Linked DNA regions of Homo sapiens: region 2 is linked to region 1. Evidence: fine-mapped expression QTL. A gene starts in region 1. The other region holds a variant in brackets. All regions are shown on one strand. Distances are from middle to middle.

The links. PIP is the estimated chance that this variant, and not a neighbour inherited with it, causes the effect. A credible set is the group of variants that fine-mapping cannot tell apart.
Region 2: its variant is the best candidate, but not a certain one, in a credible set for the expression of ADAMDEC1 in subcutaneous fat (GTEx, PIP 0.88).

What each region holds. Positions count from the first base shown.
Region 1 is chr8:24,381,810-24,387,203 of GRCh38, reverse strand. ADAMDEC1 (ADAM like decysin 1) reads right to left here and starts at 2,919. Exons shown (of 14, transcript NM_014479.3): 1 at 2,612-2,919. The coding sequence starts at 2,699. It overlaps ADAM7-AS1 (ADAM7, ADAMDEC1 and ADAM28 antisense RNA 1), which reads left to right. Exons shown (of 6, transcript NR_125808.1): 3 at 1-43. RefSeq lists an enhancer at 1-51.
Region 2 is chr8:24,347,648-24,353,041 of GRCh38, reverse strand. It overlaps ADAM28 (ADAM metallopeptidase domain 28), which reads right to left. Exons shown (of 23, transcript NM_014265.6): 19 at 3,070-3,178; 20 at 1,732-1,810; 21 at 990-1,055. All of the region lies in intron 3 of ADAM7-AS1 (ADAM7, ADAMDEC1 and ADAM28 antisense RNA 1), which reads left to right. Among named protein-coding and RNA genes, the nearest start is that of ADAMDEC1, 34 kb to the left of the region's middle. The variant G/A (reference allele first, on the strand shown) is at 1,949.

The DNA.
Region 1 (5,394 bases):
GCTCTTGACCTGCCCAGTGATGCAAGATCAACAAGACAATCAGGTACGTGAACTCATTGCTTTCAACACTTCTAAAGAAATAAGAAAAAGCATTAGAGAAAACAGAGCCACTAGCCCATTTATGAAAGGATTAACTGAGGCCATAGCAGACAACTTCCATATGACCCCATGGGACTGGTCAGTGCTAGCTAAAACAACTTTAGAGACCAGTAAATACCCCCTCTGGTGAACAGAATATGATGAGTTGTGGGAACAACAAGCCAACCAGAATCAATTGGCCTGGCAAAACATAACAGCTGCTCTCTGGCCACTAGGGCCAGGCAGCTCTAGCTAGCTGCTCTTACACTGCATACCTGTGTCTGAGTACTCACTTCATCGGTCAGCCAGGGTCTGCGGGACAGACCCGGCAGGAGAGAGAAAATTTAGGATGTTAATTGGCAGAAGAGAAAGAAAAAGGATATTCATTTTAAGTTGGGATAATTTTTATATGCTGATGGGAATGATTCCATAGAGAATATGGAATAGATACAGTAGGAAGGAGGGAAAATGTTAGGTCAATGTCCTTGTATGAGAAGGGATAAGATCTAGAAGACAAATGGAGGTGTTAAGCCAGCACAGATAGGTCAGATAGAGGAGCAGAAGGTAAGGCTGATCATATAGGGACAAGGAGCAGTAGATTGGTGAATATGGCAGAACGCCAAGTAAAACCTTCTTGCAATCCCTCCCATTTCCCCCAGAAACTTCTGGCGTGGTTTTATACACATAAAGCAATACAAATGTAATGCTGAAGTTCATTTTGCTTAGCAGTTCAGTGAGTACAAGTTTGTTTGAAAATGATTGTTTCATGCACTGTTAAAAATGATGGTAAGATTTTATGGAAGTTCCAGAAAGTTGTGAGATTGAAAGAAGAATAATTTACCAGATAAGATTGTGTATGGGTAAACATAAGAACATTACCAGGTATAAAATTATATAGTTAACTGCAACCTAATGAATATCTTCCAAAATAATAGCTTTCATTGTTAACTATTGGGTTATCTAAAGTAATAGGGAGGAATGTTTAAAAATGTAGGGCTACTTGGGCACTATGGGCATCATAGACTATCATCAAATTCAGAAGTATTTCAGTGACTTTTTCAGCAGAATATTGTGAGAACAATATTAATAGAAACAAGTTTCACTTTTCTAGAAATGTATCTATGAGTATTTTGAGACCTCTGAGGAATGGGGGGAAAAAAGATATGTAGATTTTTTTTTTTATTTCAATCAAGTTCTATTTCATTACATGTTGTTTGACTTCTCTTTAGGTACAATTAATTCTCATCCGACAGCACAGGCACAGTTGTTCAGTTGGTCAATTAATGTTTTCTTTTGTTTAATAATGCAATTATAATGTATTACATCTGATTTTTGTTTAATAATGCAGTTATATATGATTTAGCCCTCATTCTATTTTAAACTCTTCTCTGTCTTTCATCCTAGCAGAGCTATGATTCGGAAGTTGTCTTAAATACATGGATTTGATTTTTGGCCAGGAAGTTAGTTCTGTGTTGTCATTGGGATGGTGTGTTTTAGAAAAGAAAATAGATCTAGTAGAGTTATTAAATAAGAAATACAGTTCCAGAGACATCCTTACTAAATCATTATGCAAATTACAAAGTGTTGACTATAAGCCTGTCTTTATATGTTTATATGGATCAAATAATTGAATTTGAAGACTTCAGTAAGCTGTGTGTATATATCGCATAATTATTGGTATAATAATTACTCCATTTTATCCTTCTTTTGGGTATAGTATTGGTGATGCACAATGAGGAAATGTAAAAGAATATGAAGGCTAGAGCCAGCCGTATGTGTGCAGCTTTTGCACGGCAACTTTTAGGCAAGTGGGAATTTTGTGGGGAGCTTGGATAACTCCTCAGCTATGTACTTTACCTGTTTCAATATAGGGTTTAGCACAAATGTGTTTATACATGGAAATACGTAGGTTTACAGCTTGGCTTTTAACATGCTTATTATGTGATCACTAGTAAAATAACCAGTGACTTGAAAATTATTTGTAGGGTGTGTATAGTGTGTCATCAAAATGGTTCATCTATCAATAATATCAATAATCAATCTCAAAGACAAAAAGGGTTCCTTTTCCAGAACTAGTCATTTTGACCCTGTCATTCTGCTTTTAAGAATTTTTCTCAAGGAAATATCCCAAAGTGCAGATTTTTTAAACAGCCATGATTCATGAAGATGTTAATAAAATTTTATTTAGTAGAGAAAAGACATAATGAATGGAACAATATGTAGCTTTTTTTTCCTCTATTTTGGAAAATATTGTGCAAACATAAAATTTGTTAAAATATATAACAATTGGAGGAAATAGGACAAATTTTAGAATCCATGTTTCATATAGTGGTTTAAAATATCCTCACTCAAAAAGATACACATACTTATGTATATATAGTTCGCTTTTGCAGAGAGGTAGAAAATCTACCAAAATGCAAATGGTAATGGTCTTTCGACCATAAAAACATATGCCATTTTTTTTCAAAAGGCACTTTAAACATTCATCAAATAATTTGACTTTTATGTAAAATGCTGGTGTGATGGTACGTACCTTGAGTTTGAACAATGAGCCAAAGTACAGGCAGCAGGACCCAAGACATGGTGGCCACTGCAGGTAGCTGGGAGATCCCACGCAGCATGAAGTTGTGGTCTCCCCAGTGTCCAGTTTTATCTTCTCCAATTTCTCTTTAGAAGTTGAACAAGAAAATTAAAACCCCCACTTTTCGTGTGAGATTGGGGAATGTTTCTTAAGAGTGTTGGGAAATTGTCAAAAAATTGCAGTGTCAACATCATGAGAATGTTCCTCATCTTTGAGAGATATTTATGGCTGTGGTTATAGCTCATTGAGGACTCACATCTGGACACTGTTTGCCCCTGGTGCTCCTATAAGCAGTGGGAATGTGTGAACTGAGACTGAGGTGGTCGCGTGCATATCTACATACTCACCAAACTGGACCATTACGATTGTTGTTCAGTATCCTTATAGAAATAAATCCACATATTTAGGACATATATCAGTATTCTGTACATATTTTGAGATACTGTCACAGTGAACACAGAATCTAAAAAGCACCAGGTAAAGTCCTACAAACCAAGATACTGAAAATCTCTCTAACATTCAGTCTCCTAATGAGTCAACAGGGGATGCTGATAATTTTAACTGCCTCAAGATTCTTATAAAATTCATATGCATTTGCACACACACATATGCACATGCATGTAAAATTGTAAAGAAATGTGCATGTATAAGAAATGTACAAGAAATTTAAATAACCTTGACAGTGCTGGCCTTAACCGAACTATACAACATATGAAGTATGTTCGAGGTGTACTTTCTGAGTTCTACCTTATACAATAACAATGTTTCTCTGACAAATATGGTAGATTTTCATGATTATAATATCACAAGTTTATTATGAGAAAAAAGTTGACTGCCAATGATCCGACATCAAGAAATAACTTCTGTTAACGTTTTTACAATTTATTTTCATCTTCTTATGCAGAAAAGGAAAGCTAACCTTATTGGGCAAAGGGTTTAAGAAACTTATTTTTTTTTCCATGGCACTATGACATAAGCATTCTCATGACATTGAATATTAAGACATAATTTTAGTGATTTTAGAATATCATATTTTCTACATATGTGTGTGTTGAGTGTCCATGTAATGTTTGGTTGTGTATATTTCTTTAATTGAATTTCTGGTGACTTCAGGATAAATGTCTAGAAGTGCTATTATTTAGCTAAAAAGGGTAAATCAACTTGAGATTATTGATAAACATTGACTCAGTGCTTTTCAGAAAGTTAGGGCCAAATTAAATCATTATGTATAGTTTTCCCAATCTAAAAACCCATACCTTCTAACTGCTGAACTTAACTTTTCACTGATACATCTGGGAGTTTCCTAACATCTAATTGGAACTTTAAAAATCCCCTCTCTATGTCTATTCTTCACTTTGTTGCTGTTCTACCTTCCTTTAAAATAGTAACATTTTCTCTATAATTTTGCATTTCTTTTTCTGGTCCAGAGATAGGCATCCTTCTTATATCCTTTATGACCCGCCATTAATATTTTAACAAAGTATAATGCTAATTATGTCTCTATCATCAAATAATAAAAGAATCCTGGAATGGTGAACTCTTATCAGTGCCCTACCCTTTAGCACATTACATGTTGTTGTCAAGTATTTTAGTTTATCATGATTTTGACCCCCATGTTACTCATTATTTTTGTGTGTGTTTTCTACAGATGTTTGAAATTATTCATGTGTACCACCTTCTTTGCTCGCAGGTCCTTTTAGCATCAGTTATTTTTTTTTTAATTCTTCATTAAACATATTCTTTTTTATTATTTCTATAGGTTTTTGGGGAACAGGTGGTATTTGGTTACATGAGTAAGTTCTTTAGTGGTGATTTGTGAGATTTTGGTGTACCCGTCACCTGAGCAGTATACACTGAACCCAATTAGTAGTCTTTTATTCCTCACTGGCTTCCCATCCTTTCCCCCTGAGTCCCCAAAGTCCATTGTATCATTCTTATGTCTTCACATCCTCATAGCTTAGCTCCCACTTATAAGTGAGAACATACAGTGTTTAGTTTTCTGTTCCTGAGTTACCTCACTTAGAATAATAGTCTCCAATCCCATCCAGGTTGTTGCAAATGACATTAATTCATTCCTTTTCATGAATGAGTAGTATTCCATCAAATACATGGTGTATATGTGGTGCATATATATGGTATATATGCATGTATGTATGGTATACATCATATATGTGTGTGTGGTATATACATATATACACCAGTTTCTTTATCTACTCTTTGAATGATGGGCATTTGGGCTGGTTCCACGTTTTTGCAATTGTAAATTTTGCTGCTATAAACATGCAATACACAATGAAATACCACCTTACTCACATAAGAATGGCCATTATAAAAAATAAAAAAATCATAGATGATGTTGGTGTGGATGCAGTGAAAGGGAACACTTCTACACTGCTGGCTGGAATGGAAACTAATACAGCCACTATGGAAAACAGTGTGGAGATTCCATAAAGAGCTAAAAGTCTAACTACCACTTGATTCAGCAGTTTCTCTACTGGATGAGATTTGGCTATCTTTTGGTGACCATTATTGCTGTGGACAATTTTGCTTTCTGGCTATTTAGCGGGAACTAATTTGCTTATTAATTATACAACTAGTATTGCTAGGGCAGTTGAATATTTATTGAAATCATATTAAAGTTGTGTTTCTAATAAATTGCTACTACATTTCTAAGGATTCTAAGCTGACTGATACTGTCCTTGCTATTCACATATTCCCACAATAAAGTCTAATAA
Region 2 (5,394 bases), 34 kb after region 1:
TGTGATATTTCAAGTTAACCTCAAAAGTACACATCCTGATAACCGATGGATGTGGAGACAGTATTTGCAATGAGCAGGTGAGAGATTAAAAATTCACCAATGACTATCTGATACTTACAAGCAAAGAAGATGATATAGGTGCAGGAATTGGCGGTGGTGGAAAATCTGGCTTTGTAATTAGCTAGTAAAAGGATAAAACATTTACATTCAAAGATAGGGTCCTGAAAATAGGCGTGCATAAAGAAAAGACTTAAATCATTTTCAGAAATGGAGAAGCCATGACCCCACCCATGAGAATATTGTAAAATATGAGTTTGATTGCTTTCATTTAGTTGTACATACACAGTTGAGACCTAAGTCCAATGTCAATAGGTATCTGATAAAGATGATTGCTATAAACTGTATGTTTGTGTCACCCCACAATTTCATATGTTGAAACCCTAATCCCCAGAATGATGGTATTTGGAGGTGGGGCCTTTTGGAAATAATGAGGTCGTGAGGGTGCAGCTCTCATGATAGGATTAATGCCATTATAAGAAGAAGCACAAGAGAGATGCTCTCCCTCTGCTATGTGAGGATACAATAAAAAGGCAGCTGTCTACAAGCCAGAAGGCCGCTTCACCAGACACTGGATCTGCCAGCTCCTTGAACTTGGACTTCCCAGTCTCCAGAATGTGAGAAGTAAATATCTGTTGTTTAAGCCACTCAATCTATGTTAATTTAGTTACAGCAGCCTGAGCTGATGAAAACAGTGGTACTCTATTAAGCAGATTAGTCCTCTTCTTGTCACAAGTTGGCATGGAGTGACATACATGTTCATTTTTTTATATTTTCAAAATATTTTGCAGAAGAATTTGTATTTTATATTAATATTCACATAGATTTCAATATTGTCCTGAAGAAATAATGAAGTGTTGTGGGCTATGACTTTCACCGATATTTCCTGGAGATTGAACTAGGGTGGTATTTAAGAGAAGTTGCTAACTCACAAAAGAGGCTGGGGGCTCATTGCCTTCTACTGGCAGATCATACACATGGGGCTTCATCTGACTCATCTGAAAAGAAGAACGAATATTTCAAAATGAACCATTAGTTTCATAAGCACAGTTTTTAAGTAATTTTTAAGTAAGCACTTTTCAAGGCATGGAAGCTTGGAACTAAGCTGACACCAAGAGACCAGATAGAAAATCACAGTGGTCCTGCTGGCGTATTCCATAGAAGTATTTCCCAGAGCTGTAATGAAAAGTTTTCATCAAAAAATGATTACCAATGTTATAAATGATTACCAATGTTATTAACCAACTTCAGCTAAAATCTTTAAATTTACAGGACATGAGTAGGACATTTGGGTTATAAATATTACATGTATTATCATACAGACATACATATTTTTGTATCTATTTTGTCAATTTGCAAAGAAATAAGCTAGAGGGAGTGTGTGTGTGTGAGAGAGGGAGAGAGAATGAAGCAGAGACAAAGAGAGAGACAGACAGACATCCGGTATGTGCATTCTTTGTTCTCTTTATTCTGTTTGCATTTCATGAACCCCGGCAAAGTAGCCTCGGCATTTTAGGGACTCTTTTGCCTTTAACAAAAGGCAAAGGAGACATTTCTGAATGTGTTACTGCAAAACGCTGCTGGGTAGAAATGATAGATAGGTAGTCAGGATAAGAGTGTGAGAGAAACGCAAAGTGGGGCCATGGTAATCACAGCCCAGACTATATAGTTCACCTCTTGGGGTTGAACAGCCTTTACCATCTGGGGTTTCCTCTTCTGTTTGTGTGGCCTGGTGCCAGTGGTAGATAGTGGCCTGTAAGAGAGAAACACATGATATCAATTGACTTAGCAGCTCCTTCAGCATGACAGGGAAACTCCGTAGAAGATTCCCAACTTCTTTTTCCCATTGTGTCTTTCTTGCCTATTGCCTGGGTTTTTATCTGCTCCCTGG[G/A]TCAGTTTTTACTTCCCCGTCAGCCTCTTTCATTGCCTTGTAATTCATAATCACTACTAGTTTTCTTTTTTCTCCAAAAACCCCTGACTTCTAAAAATGATAGTGTTGAATCCAAATTTTATCTAAATTATGTTGTTTTATTAATGTCTTACTCAATATTAAAAAACTCATCATGAGTAAATAAGTCTTTCTTTAAAAGTGCTAAAAAAAAAAAAAAAAAAAAAAAAAACACCGTTGTGCCAGAATCACGTTCGTGAGACAAACCCAGCCTCCACCACTTACTCTGCAAGACTGAAAGCATGTTTGCTAATAATCTCTCTGAGCTTGTTTCTATATCCATCAAAATGTGAAGTTCCTAACCTTGCAAAATTGTGTAAGGGTTAGCATAAAACATTTCTCATCTGTAAAATGAAACTCATGACCACTTTATGAAGTTCTTGTGAAGTGTAAATAAGATAATAGATATAAAAGGGCTTAGCACACGGCCGGGTGTGGAGACTCACACCTGTAATCCCGGCACTTAGGGAAGCCAAAGTGGGTGGATCATTTGAGGTCAGGAGTTTGAGACCAGGTTGGCCAACATGGTGAAACCCCATCTCTACTAAAAATACAAAAATAACCCGGTGTGGTGGTATGTGCATGTAATCCCAGATACTCGGGGCTGAGGTAGGAGAAGTACTTGAAACTGGGAGGTGTGGAGGTTGCAGTGAGCCGAGATCGCAGCATCGCACTCCAGCCTGGGCCACAGAGGGAGACTCTTGTCTCAAAAAAAAGTGGGTGGGGCGGTGCTTAGCACAGTGCTCATCGTATATTGATCAAATAATGTTAGATATTATATTCTTACAACAAATTCAAAAAATCTGTCATAATGAGAGTTAATATCACTCTTATTATTATAACTACGGTGACTAACAGAAGGAAAAACAAAAAACATTTCTAGATGTGAAGGATTTCTCAGTTAAAGGGAAACCCAGTTTCTCGTCCAAAAAGACCATCTGCATGTATTTCTGAATATTAGAAGTAAACCAATTCAATTTGAAAGGATAGGTTATACATTGAATTTAAAGTAAAGTAAAATAGGGGTCAAAGAGTCCCTACAGCAAGATAAGATAAAGGATCACCTCTGATCTTTCTTCTGCTTTTCTCTGGAGCTCTGGTGCCGGATTACCATAGCAACCACCACAAAAATGACCGCCATTGGGAACAGCACCCCAACCACAATGGAGAAGTCTGCAGCAGAGAACAGGGGCCCGCTGAGGACTGCAGAAACACACATCTGCACAACACACTAGTCCTTGTTTCTTTACTTAGCACATATTCCAGCTACCCTTTTCTCCAATGAACATAAATTCCCATAGCCAGTAAAATGAAAAAGTATTTTGATCAGGATAATTATATTAATATTAGGTAGAATAAATACACATGAAATCTATAGGAAACATTTAACATGAAATAAGTTAAAAATCATAATATTGAGAATACTTAGATAATGTTTGTAACAACTGGGAAATGAGCTGGGAGATTAGAAGAGAATATACAGTAAGGAAGATGGCAAAGAAGAAATGAAACATTTTTGAAAAGCAGTCTTGGAATAAAACAGAGAAAAAGAAACTAAAACTTTGAAAATACATTCCTGTCATTAGTGAATAAGAAGCTGAGGTGTGACTAAGAAGACAAATAATCGAGTGTTCCACTGATGTTGGTCTACACTGGAATTAGACAGGAAGTTATGTGACCTTGAGAATGAGGAAATGGTTTGAACAAATATTCCTGGGCCTCCATGGTGTTTTTTCTTGTACTGACAAATTTAAATAATGAATATAACTTCACTCTTTTGCTCTTAACTGTTCATTTCTCTTACAATAATCTGAAACCACAAGAGACCAGGAAGGAAAAGATTGAAAAGCAATGCCAAAAGTTACCGTTCTCTTATTACAGAAATCAGCAAACCAATAGCATGATTAATATTTGTATAAATGCAAGAAAAGTTCACAAGTGTGAGCACACACACACATGCAGATAGAGGTAGACACATCAGAAGCAGAATTCTAGGTAAGACAATGACTTTAGTTCAAATATTCGCTACTCGCCACCCTCCATAAGATTCCAATCCAAAAAGTCAAAGGAAAATAAAACAGTGAAGCATTCTGTTATAGTGTAGATACATTCAGAATGAAAAACATACACTTACTTGCACTAATATCAGAACTGTAACTATTTTCAGAAGAATGACATATTATCAGAGAAATAAATGGGAATTTGGCAGTACTTCACAAACACACCAAACTTGAAAAGACATGGTCTGGAGCTAAAATTGGGGCACAGGACAGATGGAAGTATAACAACGGAAGGTTTGCAGGTGAAGATAGAAATCACTGAAGAGTAAGTGCAGCCTCTTCTTGTTTCTGGTAATGGTGGACTAGGAAATTGAGATCAACCTGCCCATTAAAAATAATCTTTTAATCTTTAAATTTTTTGCAAACAAGCAAACAAAAGCATCCTAAAAGTATAAAAGTACTTAAATGTTAGATAAAATTACTTTGTAGAGATTAGTGAGTGGGCAAGGACCTGGAGAGACAGAAAATAATCCTAGATAAAAGTTCAGAAATGCAGAAAGAAATGAAAGGCAAATGAACCAACAGCAAACCCTAATGTAAACTGTGGGCTTGGGGTGATAATGATGTGTTAATGTAGGTTTATGGAGTATTTGTTACCATCAACGAATACTCCACGAGAATGGGGGATGTTGATGGTGAGGGAAGCTGTTCAGGAGTGGGAGTTGCTGGGTATATGTCAACTGTCTGTTCTTTCTCTTCAATTTCGCTGTGAACCCAAAACTGCTCTACAAAAGAAAGTAAGTTAAGTTTATTTTTTTAAAAAAGCAAATGAATTGGGAAGTTTTAGGGTAATCATTAAAATATAAAAGAAATGCATAACATCCAAGTTAATAAAATAATAAAATCAATAAGTCTATAAGAAAGTAAGAAAGGAGAGAAAAGGGAACATAAACAGGAAAGACAAATAGAAACTATATAATTGTGGATTTATACCCAAGTACATCAGTAATTACATTTAATTTAAACGGACTAAGTTCCTCAGTTAAAGAAACAAACAAAAACCAAAGATGTGAGTACTACTAAAAACTATATGTGCATGCTTTCTTTAATAAAAGAAAAAAAGACTTAAAACGTGATTCAGAAAGGATAAAAATGAAAATATGGAAAAATGTTATTTCAGGGCAAATACAGACCAAAACAAATACGTTACAGCTATATGGTCTCCAGGAAGTGTATATTCTCAAAGGTAAGAAGTGTACTAGATAGACACAGCACCATTTCATCATGATACACTGTTCATTAATTTGGAAGAAGCAACACTCTAAACTTGTATGTATATAATAATACGCTCTCAAAGTATAAAAGTATTGATAGAGCCAGAAGTAGTAA